Homo sapiens: one gene and its partner. The protein of the gene in region 1 purifies or fractionates together with the protein of each later gene. This does not show direct contact. Each region holds a gene or a part of one and is shown on either strand. Other genes may lie near its edges.

Region 1 (4,461 bases):
AAATGCAAATCCTTGGGCCCCATCCCAGACCTGAATCAGAAACTATATATATATATTTTTGAGATGGAGTCTCTCTCTGTCGCCCAGGTGGAGGTGGGGTTTCGCCACGTTGGCTAGGCTGGTCTTCAACTCCTGATCTCCAGGTAATCCTCCTGCCTCGGCCTCCAAAAGTACTGGAATTACAGGAGTGAGCCACCGTGCCTGGCCATAAATCTGTTTTAACGCACCCTCCTCCAAGTGGTTCTGATGCTTACTGAAATTTGTGAAACTCTGGCCTACTCTACAAAACCCTAATGTCTTAGGATGGCATAGAAATCCTGACTGACTTTCCTACCATGTTCCTTGTCATTATTTTCTCCTCTCCTGTCCCACCCTGGCCCACCCTTCAATTTCATTCTTTCATTAGCTATCAAACCTGTATGTGTCTTTTTGTTCTAAGCACCAATAATATAAGGAAGACAGTCCAGCTCCTAACTGTCTTGCTGACCTAGGACTGGGGTGCTCCAGCCACATGACAACCCCTGGAATTAAGTACACACCATGTCATTTTAAGTGACAAGCCTCTGCCATAGCATCTCCTTCTTCTTGGTGAATTCCTATGTCTTTGGTGGCTCATTCTCAAATGTCCCTGTTCCTGAATTACTCAGAGGGCTAATCCCCAGTTTCTCTGTGCCTCCACAGCTGCCTGTCATTTCATTTATCCCAAAGTGGCATTCCCATTTGTTTACCTGTCTACTAGGATACTCCTAGAATGCAGGTAGCATGAGGGAAGAGCCTTCACTCATCTTTGTGTAGACGGCATTGTGACCCTGGTGACCAACCCTGGCACACATCAGAATCATCTGGGAGCTTTTCAAAAATATGAATGCCAGAGCTCACCCCTGAACCTACAGGAACTGAGCCTTACACATCCATATTTTAAAATGTCCCCACATCACCGTTGCACACTGTTCTGCACAGAGCAGGTATTTTTAATAGTTCTCGAATGTCTAGTCAATTACTTAGCAAGGCTGCCTGGAGAATCATGTCTACCTTAGCTTACTTCTCCGGCTTTGTAGGTTTTTGTTTTCTTTTGATTTCAGTTTCCATTTCCTCTAACTTGAAAGTATGTGCATTGGTAACAGCCACACAGCAGTCATTACTGATAAAAGGCGACATTTTGTTGAGATGATTTTAGTTATTGACCTAATCTCTGGTATTTTAAGGTTAATATATTTTTTACAGTCTCAAATATCCAGCGGTAACCTCAAATTAGAGTTGCCTGTTAAACAGTTTCTCAAGTATCTTTCAGGATTGTAGTCACTCTGCGGGCTAATCGCTCACCAGGTGTCCGTGGCTGATCCCAGTTATTCTGATTAACCTCTAAGGTGATTGTGAGACTTTAAACCGTCTCACCTGTAGCCGACCAAGCCAGCTCAAGTCAACATCCTGGGCTGTTAACCCGCGATAAGGTCGGACGGGGCCTCAGTGGAGAATACGTGGGGAAGTTCTCTGGGGCGGGCGCAGTCTGCTGCTGATTCTGAGAAACCGAAACTCAGCTGTTAAAACCGCTGCCTCTGCACTTTGGAATCCCATCTTGAGACTCGCTAAGCGTCCCAGCCGCATCCCTCCCGCAGCGACGGCGGCCCGGGACCCGCGGGCTGTGAACCATGAACACCCGCAATAGAGTGGTGAACTCCGGGCTCGGCGCCTCCCCTGCCTCCCGCCCGACCCGGGATCCCCAGGACCCTTCTGGGCGGCAAGGGGAGCTGAGCCCCGTGGAAGACCAGAGAGAGGGTTTGGAGGCAGCCCCTAAGGGCCCTTCGCGGGAGAGCGTCGTGCACGCGGGCCAGAGGCGGTGAGTATTTTAACAACCTGGCTTCGGGGCGGGAGCCCGGGCCCCAAACATACTCACTCACAAGCACCTTGGTCCTTGGAGTTTAAAACCACAGGGGCCCAACAACAGGGATTTTGACTGAATGAAAGCTCATTTGCTTAAATGAAAGTATCCATGCCGCACCTTATAAATTGAGTCGGCTAGTTTGCAGTCCTTTGGTAAATAACCAGCCCGGTTCCTTCCAGGAATACTACTTTCCTGATTTTTGTGACTGGCTACAGGATTGAAAGATATGGGTGTGTCGGAACTGCCTAGGCATCCAGTAAGATGTCATTTTCCAGGTATCTCCAGAACTCATACTCCAACCAGTATGGAAATAACTTTTCCCTTACTGTTTTTAAAAATTTGGTGCTGGGCCAGGCGCGTTGGCTCAAGCCTGTTATCCCAGCACTTTGGGAGGCCAAGGCAGGCAGATCACCTGAGGTCAGGAGTTCGAAACCAGCCTGGCCAACATGGTGAAACCCAGTCTTTACTAAAAATAAAAAATAAGCTGGGTGTGATGGCACGTGCCTGTAGTCCCAGCTACCTGGGAGGCTGAGGTAGGAGAATCGCTTGAACCCGGGAGGCGGAGGTTGCAGTGAGCGGAAATTGCGCCATTGCACTCCAGCCTGGGCAACAGAGCGAGACTGTCTCAAAACAAAACAAAACAGAAAAACAAAACTTGGTGTCCTAAACGGAATTACTGTATCAGACACTAACAGGTAAGGGTCAACAAGAAATGTGATATGGGGTAGAAGGTTCAAATTCTGCCTCTAGGTAGGAGCAAGCCTACGTCCCAGCAAGACTCGCAGATAAACTAGCCTCTTACAACCAGAGGAGTGGAGCTGAGAGAGTGAGGAGGTGAGTGACCATAGTACCTCTCATCCCTGATGTTGATATGTGCTCTATGCAGGAACAGATAGGTAGCTTTTATTCCTGGTCTTTGGTTCAGGGACTGCAGTGAGTATCCGGGAAACATTTATTAAGCAAGTGTCATGAGCCTCTCTTTCTAGCCAATGGAATGAACTTTAACTCAACAGTATGGTTTATCACAACATCACTGCCTTTGAAGTGCTGCCTCTGTGAATTGGAACTGTCCAGATGGTTTTATTTTTAGTCTCTCCTTTTTCATCGACTTCTAGTCTCTGAAAGACAAACCCTGGTTGCTAAGAAACAGTATATAACCTTATGGCCGATAAACAGTAGATTTTCTTTCATCCCTTAGCTTTTGGAAAGTACCAGGCCTTTAATATTATTATTTAGCTTAGGTTTACCCTTAGATGGGGTGGATAATCTGGAAATCAATTAGAGATTGTTGCATTTCTTTCCTCCTCAGAATAATTAGTGTCTCGCCACAGTAGAAGCAGCCAATTACTTTCAAGTAACCCACGTATCTACAAGCTATAGTACTTAACAGTAACAAAGGTCACAGACATATGGTCTCGTGTCCATGAATAGTTAACGATGAACATGATTTGCATGACTTTTTTCTGTTAAAAAGCATTTATTTAGATACAACCATTTATTTCTAAGCTCATATCATCGCATAAGTATTAACTGTTGCATCTGTTTTCTTATTTGGTTGTAATTACCCTGGAATCTTGCCAGATCAAATTGCTCAGAAAGAGGCAGCTTTCTGATGGGTTATCCAGGCCTTAATACCCTGAAGAGCTCACTGTACACTATTTTGCGATTCCTGAAAAGATTTTCAAATGAACCATTAAAAAAATACCAGGAAGTGTTTAGTTATCTCTCACAGAGTCTTCCTTTTTTTTTTTTTTTTTCCTCATGTGAACCAGTTGCAGTAAGTACAGAATTATATATTCCCTTTTAGGGGTTTGATGTCTGAGATCCTGTTGGGATGACTTTGAATTTTTGTTGCATCTCCATTAGTTACTTAGATTCACTTTCTCACTTGTTTCCTTTAATGAAGTTGGAAAACCAAGGAAAATGAATGGCAAATATCTCAGTAGAATTAGCTGCCTACCCGCTGCCCCAAAATAAAGAAGGCTTTATTTATTTTGGGGATAAAAATTAGAAACACTTTCTGATTTAAAAAAATGAAGAGGCCGGGCATGGTGTCTCACGCCTGTAATCCCAGCACTTTGGGAGGCCGAGGAGGGCGGATCACGAGGTCAGGAGATGGAGACCATCCTGGCTAACACAGTGAAACCCCGTCTCTACTAAAAATACAAAAAATTAGCTGGGCATGGTGGCAGGCGCCTGTAGTCCCAGCTACTTGGGAGGCTGAGGCAGGAGAATGGCGTGAACCCGGGAGGCAGAGCTTGCAGTGAGCCGAGATCGCGCCACTACACTCCAGCCTGGGCGACAGAGTGAGACTCTGTCTCAAAAACAAAACAAAACAAAACAAAAAGCAAAAAAAAAAAAAAAAGAAAAAAGAGGATAAAGTGCTTTAATAGTACAGTTTCATTTGTCCACTCATAATGTGAATTTATTTATATGGTAAAAGATTTGTCTTGTTTTGTGGGAATCCTTCCATTAATTTCCTCCTGCAGCCCCAGTGTGGGGATTAGGAATATGGGCTCTGATGCTGGGTAGACCTGGGTTCAAGTTCTGATTATGCCATCACTTGCTCTTTGAACAAA
Region 2 (4,583 bases), on another chromosome or scaffold:
AGTCTATATGTAAATATTATGCCATTTTATGTAAAGAACTTGAACACTGGCTGGGGTGATGTTCTGGAACCAATACCCCATGGATACGGAAGGACAACTGTATATACACCTGCATATATAAACTATATATTTACAAGGCCAGAAATTGTTGAGGGTGCCCAGCACAGTAACTGGCACGAAGTAAGTCATCATAATAGTTGTATTAGCGTTGCCTTCATAGGTGGTGATTTGGAGAATCTATTCTAGGTGGGTACAGCAATGGAGGCTTTGGTCCAGTTTGTCTAGGGTCATGGTGGTGAGAAATAGCAGACAAGCCTGAAAGGATGATTTGGGGCTTTCCTTGCCCCAAAGAGAGAGAGAGACAGAAAATCCTTGCACCGGATGATATCAATGCTGTGCCTCTGAATGTCCATTTGGAAAGCCAGTCCTGTGCTTCCAAAAACAGGATATTCAACACCTTGAAGAGGTGTGGTAATTGCACATCTTACTTTTTACGTTTTAGGAAGTCTACAGAGAGTGGGGCTGAAAAGTTTGGGAAGAACAGGTAGGCATGTGGGGAGGGCAAAAGAACAGAAATAACATGCACAAGCATTTTTCTAGGAAAATTTTAGGGAAAGCTAAGTGATGTAAAGTTACACTTAAAAGACTACACATTTTCGGCCGGGCGCAGTGGCCGAATCCCGGCAAAAGTAATCCCGGCACTTTTGGGGGCCGAGGCCTGGGGAACACGAGGTCAGGAGTTCGAGACCAGTTGGCCAACACGGCAAAACCCCGTCTCTACTAAAAATTAGCCGGGCGTGGTGGCAGACACCTGTAATCCCAGCTACTCGGGAGGCCGAGGCAGGAGCATCGCTTGAAACCGGAAGGCGGAGGTTGCAGCGAGCCCAGATCGCGCCACCGCACTCCAGCCTGGGCGACAAGAGCGAAACTCCGTCTCAAAAACAAAACAAAACAAAAACTACACATTTTCGCACTTTAAGGGCTCAACGGCTGTATTCCCACTCCTTTGCCACTCTCTTTGCTCTTTTCCGCTCTAGAAAGAATTAATGAACTGGATCAAATCTAAGTTCTCCACGTTACAGATGGGAAGCCTCCGGGCCAAGGAGGCCAATGGTTACACAAACCAGGTAAGAAAATAAAATATGCCCAGTAAGTTCATAGGACCGGCGGGCTTAGATTTCGAATGCGCGTGACTCTGTCAACTGTGGACTTAACCCTATGCAGAGATTAGAGGAGAGAATAGTCAAACACGGATAAGTTAACATTTACCGAACAGTCCGTCCTACCCTGGGGTAGGTTTTATTAACAGTCTCGTTTTGCAAAGGAAGACAGCTGCCAGTTGTCTCAGATCGCACGGGCATGCCGCGCAGATGGGCTTCTGAGCAGCTCAGGGCCAGCCAGAGGTCTGGCGAGAAGGGCGTAATTAAACGAACCCGCGCCGGTTTCCTCAGGGCCCCCCGGGGCTCCGCTTCGCCCCAGCGGGCCTCGGCGGGGCTGGGAAACCGGCTGAGGTTCGCCTCACGGTGGGGAGGAGCGACGGGAGGCGGAAGCCCTTCGGTCCGGGCCCCGCCCCCGCACTCGCCCTCGCCCCGCCGCGACTTCCCATTCGCCGCCAACCCATGTGCGTTGGTGACGTCACCGCGTTCACCAGCCCGGAAGTGCGCGTGGCGGCGGTGGCGGCTGCGGCAACAGCGGGGCCGGTAAGCGGGCGCGCGCCGCTCAGAGGGGCAGAGTTGGTGGCGTGAGTTGCTGCCCCTTCCTTCCTGCTGTGGGCCAGAGGCGCCACCGCGCCCGGTCCTCGAGGAAGACGGGAGCGGGACGTGGCGAGAGGCCTCCTCAGCAGTGGGCAAAATAGCCCCGACGCGGAGGTCGTGTCCCCGCCACGTTTCCGGCGACCGCAGGCGCGGATTCCTTGGCTTCCCTCAGCACTTTCCCCTCCGCGCGGACGGCCCCGAGACGCTTTTTCACTGGGCCTTGTCGCCAGCACCCGGCGTGGGGGGTGAGACGCGCCTTTTCAGGGCTGGGGTTCCCCAGAGCGTTTTCCTAAGTCGAGGCGGAGGTGCGAGGAAACTGAGTGGGTCTTTCCGCCCCACGTGGCCTGCCGGGAAGCGCGGCTCCTCCACCCGCTTCCGTGGAATGGAATGGTTTTTCTCTGCAGGTTTACACCGGGGTCACTCGAGAGCTGCTGCGGCCTCCTTATGGGCAGGACCCCCGTATGGGGAGAACGAGGATGTGATATGTAGAAGGGAAGGCCGCGGTGTGCCAGAAATCAGAGGAGATTGCAAGATGGCAGGAAAAGAATCAGGAAAATGGGGGCAGCAAAACTAAATTCATGGGAAAATACAATGTCTAGGAGCTATCCCAGGGTCGTGAATCCTCGAGTGCAGGTGGGGAAGTAGGGTGATACCCACCTGTGACCATGACAAGTTTTGGAGACCAGAAACTCGGTTAGAGTTTCTAGAACCCCGCATCCCTCTCATACTGCCTGAAGCCCTGCTCTGGGGAGAGTGTCATCACAGTACCATGTGGCATGCGAGTGTCGTGGTAATGCTCCCCGACCAAACCACCAAACCGAGGGTTGGGCTGCTTATTCTCGCTGCCCAATAATGAGATGCAGATAAACTAGGAAAGAAAGGAGTTTATTTCTGTAACCAGGTACGGGGCGAAGGCGTGGAAAATATCCCAGACCGACTCAGAATTACAGAGCTTTCCAGAGCTTATATACCTTGTAAGTTGTATGTTTATGTGTAAGTGTGCATTGATCTAAAGATACAAGTGATTAACTTCTTACCCATAAGATCTGAGTCCTGAAGACCTTCCTCTGGAGCCTGAGTAAATTTACTTAATCTAAATGGGTCCAGGTGCTGGGGTGATTACCCTTATATTCTCTCCTGCTAAATCATGGAGGTTTGGGGAGTTCCCTCAGACCCCTAATAAACTTGTTCGTGGAGGCCTGGGGAGTTTCCTCAGATCCCCAGTAAAACTTGTTTAATTCTAAACGGGTCCTGTTAAGAATTCCTTTGTGGCCGGGCTCAGTGGCTCACGCCTGTAATCCCAGCACTTTGGGAGGCTGAGGCGGGCAGATCACTTGAGGTCAGGAGTTCGAGAGCAGTCTGGCCAACGTGGTAAAACCCCGTCTCTACCCAGAAGTATAAAAAATTAGCCGGATGTGGTGGTGTGCGCCTGTAATCCCTGCTACTTGGGATGCTGAGGCAGGAGAATCTCTTGAACCCAGGAGGCAGGGGTTGCAGTGAGCTGAGATCGCGCCACTGCACTCCCGCCTGAGCGACAGAGCGAGACTCCATCTCAAAAAAAAAAAAAAAAAAAAAAAGAATTCCTTTGTTATTTTATCATGCTTCAAGGTCCAGGAAAGGCCTAGGCAAAACTCTTGGGGGGCTTTTGTTACATTCTAGCCTTGTTTAAGGGCACTGGCTGGCTCTTTCAGCTTTTAATATGTAACTCAACCAGTCAGTCAGTACTGAAACAGTTATGGAGGCCTGCGCTAGTGAGACCCCGCCTGCCACAGTAAGTGCTTCTGGAGAACAAAACCAGGTAGATACATAGACCTAGTCGTAATCCCTCAAACTGACACCGTTTTCAGTTTTTTCATCTGAACAAGAGATGAATTTCTGAGTTGATAAACTTGAAATGTGTCCCCCTTTGTTTTCCTTCACTTACCTTCACTTTTAATTTCATTGGTATGCCTGTGTATTTGCCTTGTAGATGTGTAGTTGGTGACTGCCTCTCCAGATGCTGAGGTGCCTGTATCATTGGCACAGGCCAGTGCTGAACCGTAGGTGGAGTAGGCTGTGCCTTCCGAAGCAGTATCTATTCACAATGAAGTTGCAGTCTCCCGAATTCCAGTCACTTTTCACAGAAGGACTGAAGAGTCTGACAGGTGAGAGATTAGGATACCTTTTCTTGATTGGAAACCTATATAAATGGAGAAGTAGAGGGTTAACTTTTTAAGCCAGCATTCGGATATTTTCATTGTTGTTTTAATTATTTTTATTAAAAAACGTAAGTAGAGGGTCTCTTTGTGTTGCCCAGGCTGGTCTCAAAACTCCTGGGCTCACTCCTTGGCCTCCCAAAATGCTGGGATTACAGGTGTGAGCCACGGTGCCCAATGTGCACGTTTTCATTGTTGGAAGAAAGGCTTGGCTGGGTGTACCCAGCCTGTAATCTCTTGGGGAGGCCAAGGTAGGAGGATTGTTTGAGCCCAGGAGTTTGAGGCTGCAGTGAGCTATGATCATGCCACTCTAGCCTGGGCAACAGAGTGAGACCCTGTCTCAAAAAAAGAGAAAGGAATATTAAAAGAGAAAGGCTTACATATGGCTGATCCAAAAATATAGCTAAATCACTGGAAAAGGCAAGAAGTTGACTGCAGTAAAAAGCATGGCTTTTCTGTATGCTGTGCTAAGTACTTGCCATTCATTACAGGACTGGTGCTACTAACTTAATGAGTACGCACATTTTGACCTGTTACGTGAAAAAGGAAACAGATTGTTAGGCATGTGAAGTGCTTTGCCTGTGTTTCTGTAACTACTAACTAGAGAGCTAGGTTTCGAACTTACGCAGATTGA

Evidence for each region.
Region 2: the proteins of EPSTI1 (region 1) and TRNT1 purify together in Homo sapiens (affinity purification with mass spectrometry; one large-scale study listed by BioGRID and IntAct). This does not show direct contact.

What each region holds. Positions count from the first base shown.
Region 1 is NC_000013.11:42,989,354-42,993,814, reverse strand, and holds the start of EPSTI1 (epithelial-stromal interaction protein 1), read left to right. Parts: upstream 1-1,573; 5' UTR 1,574-1,649; coding exon 1,650-1,837; intron 1,838-2,632; exon of another isoform or gene 2,633-2,716; intron 2,717-4,461. UniProt on the Homo sapiens protein: Plays a role in M1 macrophage polarization and is required for the proper regulation of gene expression during M1 versus M2 macrophage differentiation.
Region 2 is NC_000003.12:3,125,291-3,129,873, forward strand, and holds the start of TRNT1 (CCA tRNA nucleotidyltransferase 1, mitochondrial), read left to right. Parts: upstream 1-1,649; 5' UTR 1,650-1,700; exon of another isoform or gene 1,701-2,728; intron 2,729-3,723; 5' UTR 3,724-3,750; coding exon 3,751-3,898; intron 3,899-4,583. UniProt on the Homo sapiens protein: Nucleotidyltransferase that catalyzes the addition and repair of the essential 3'-terminal CCA sequence in tRNAs, which is necessary for the attachment of amino acids to the 3' terminus of tRNA molecules, using CTP and ATP as substrates. tRNA 3'-terminal CCA addition is required both for tRNA processing and repair.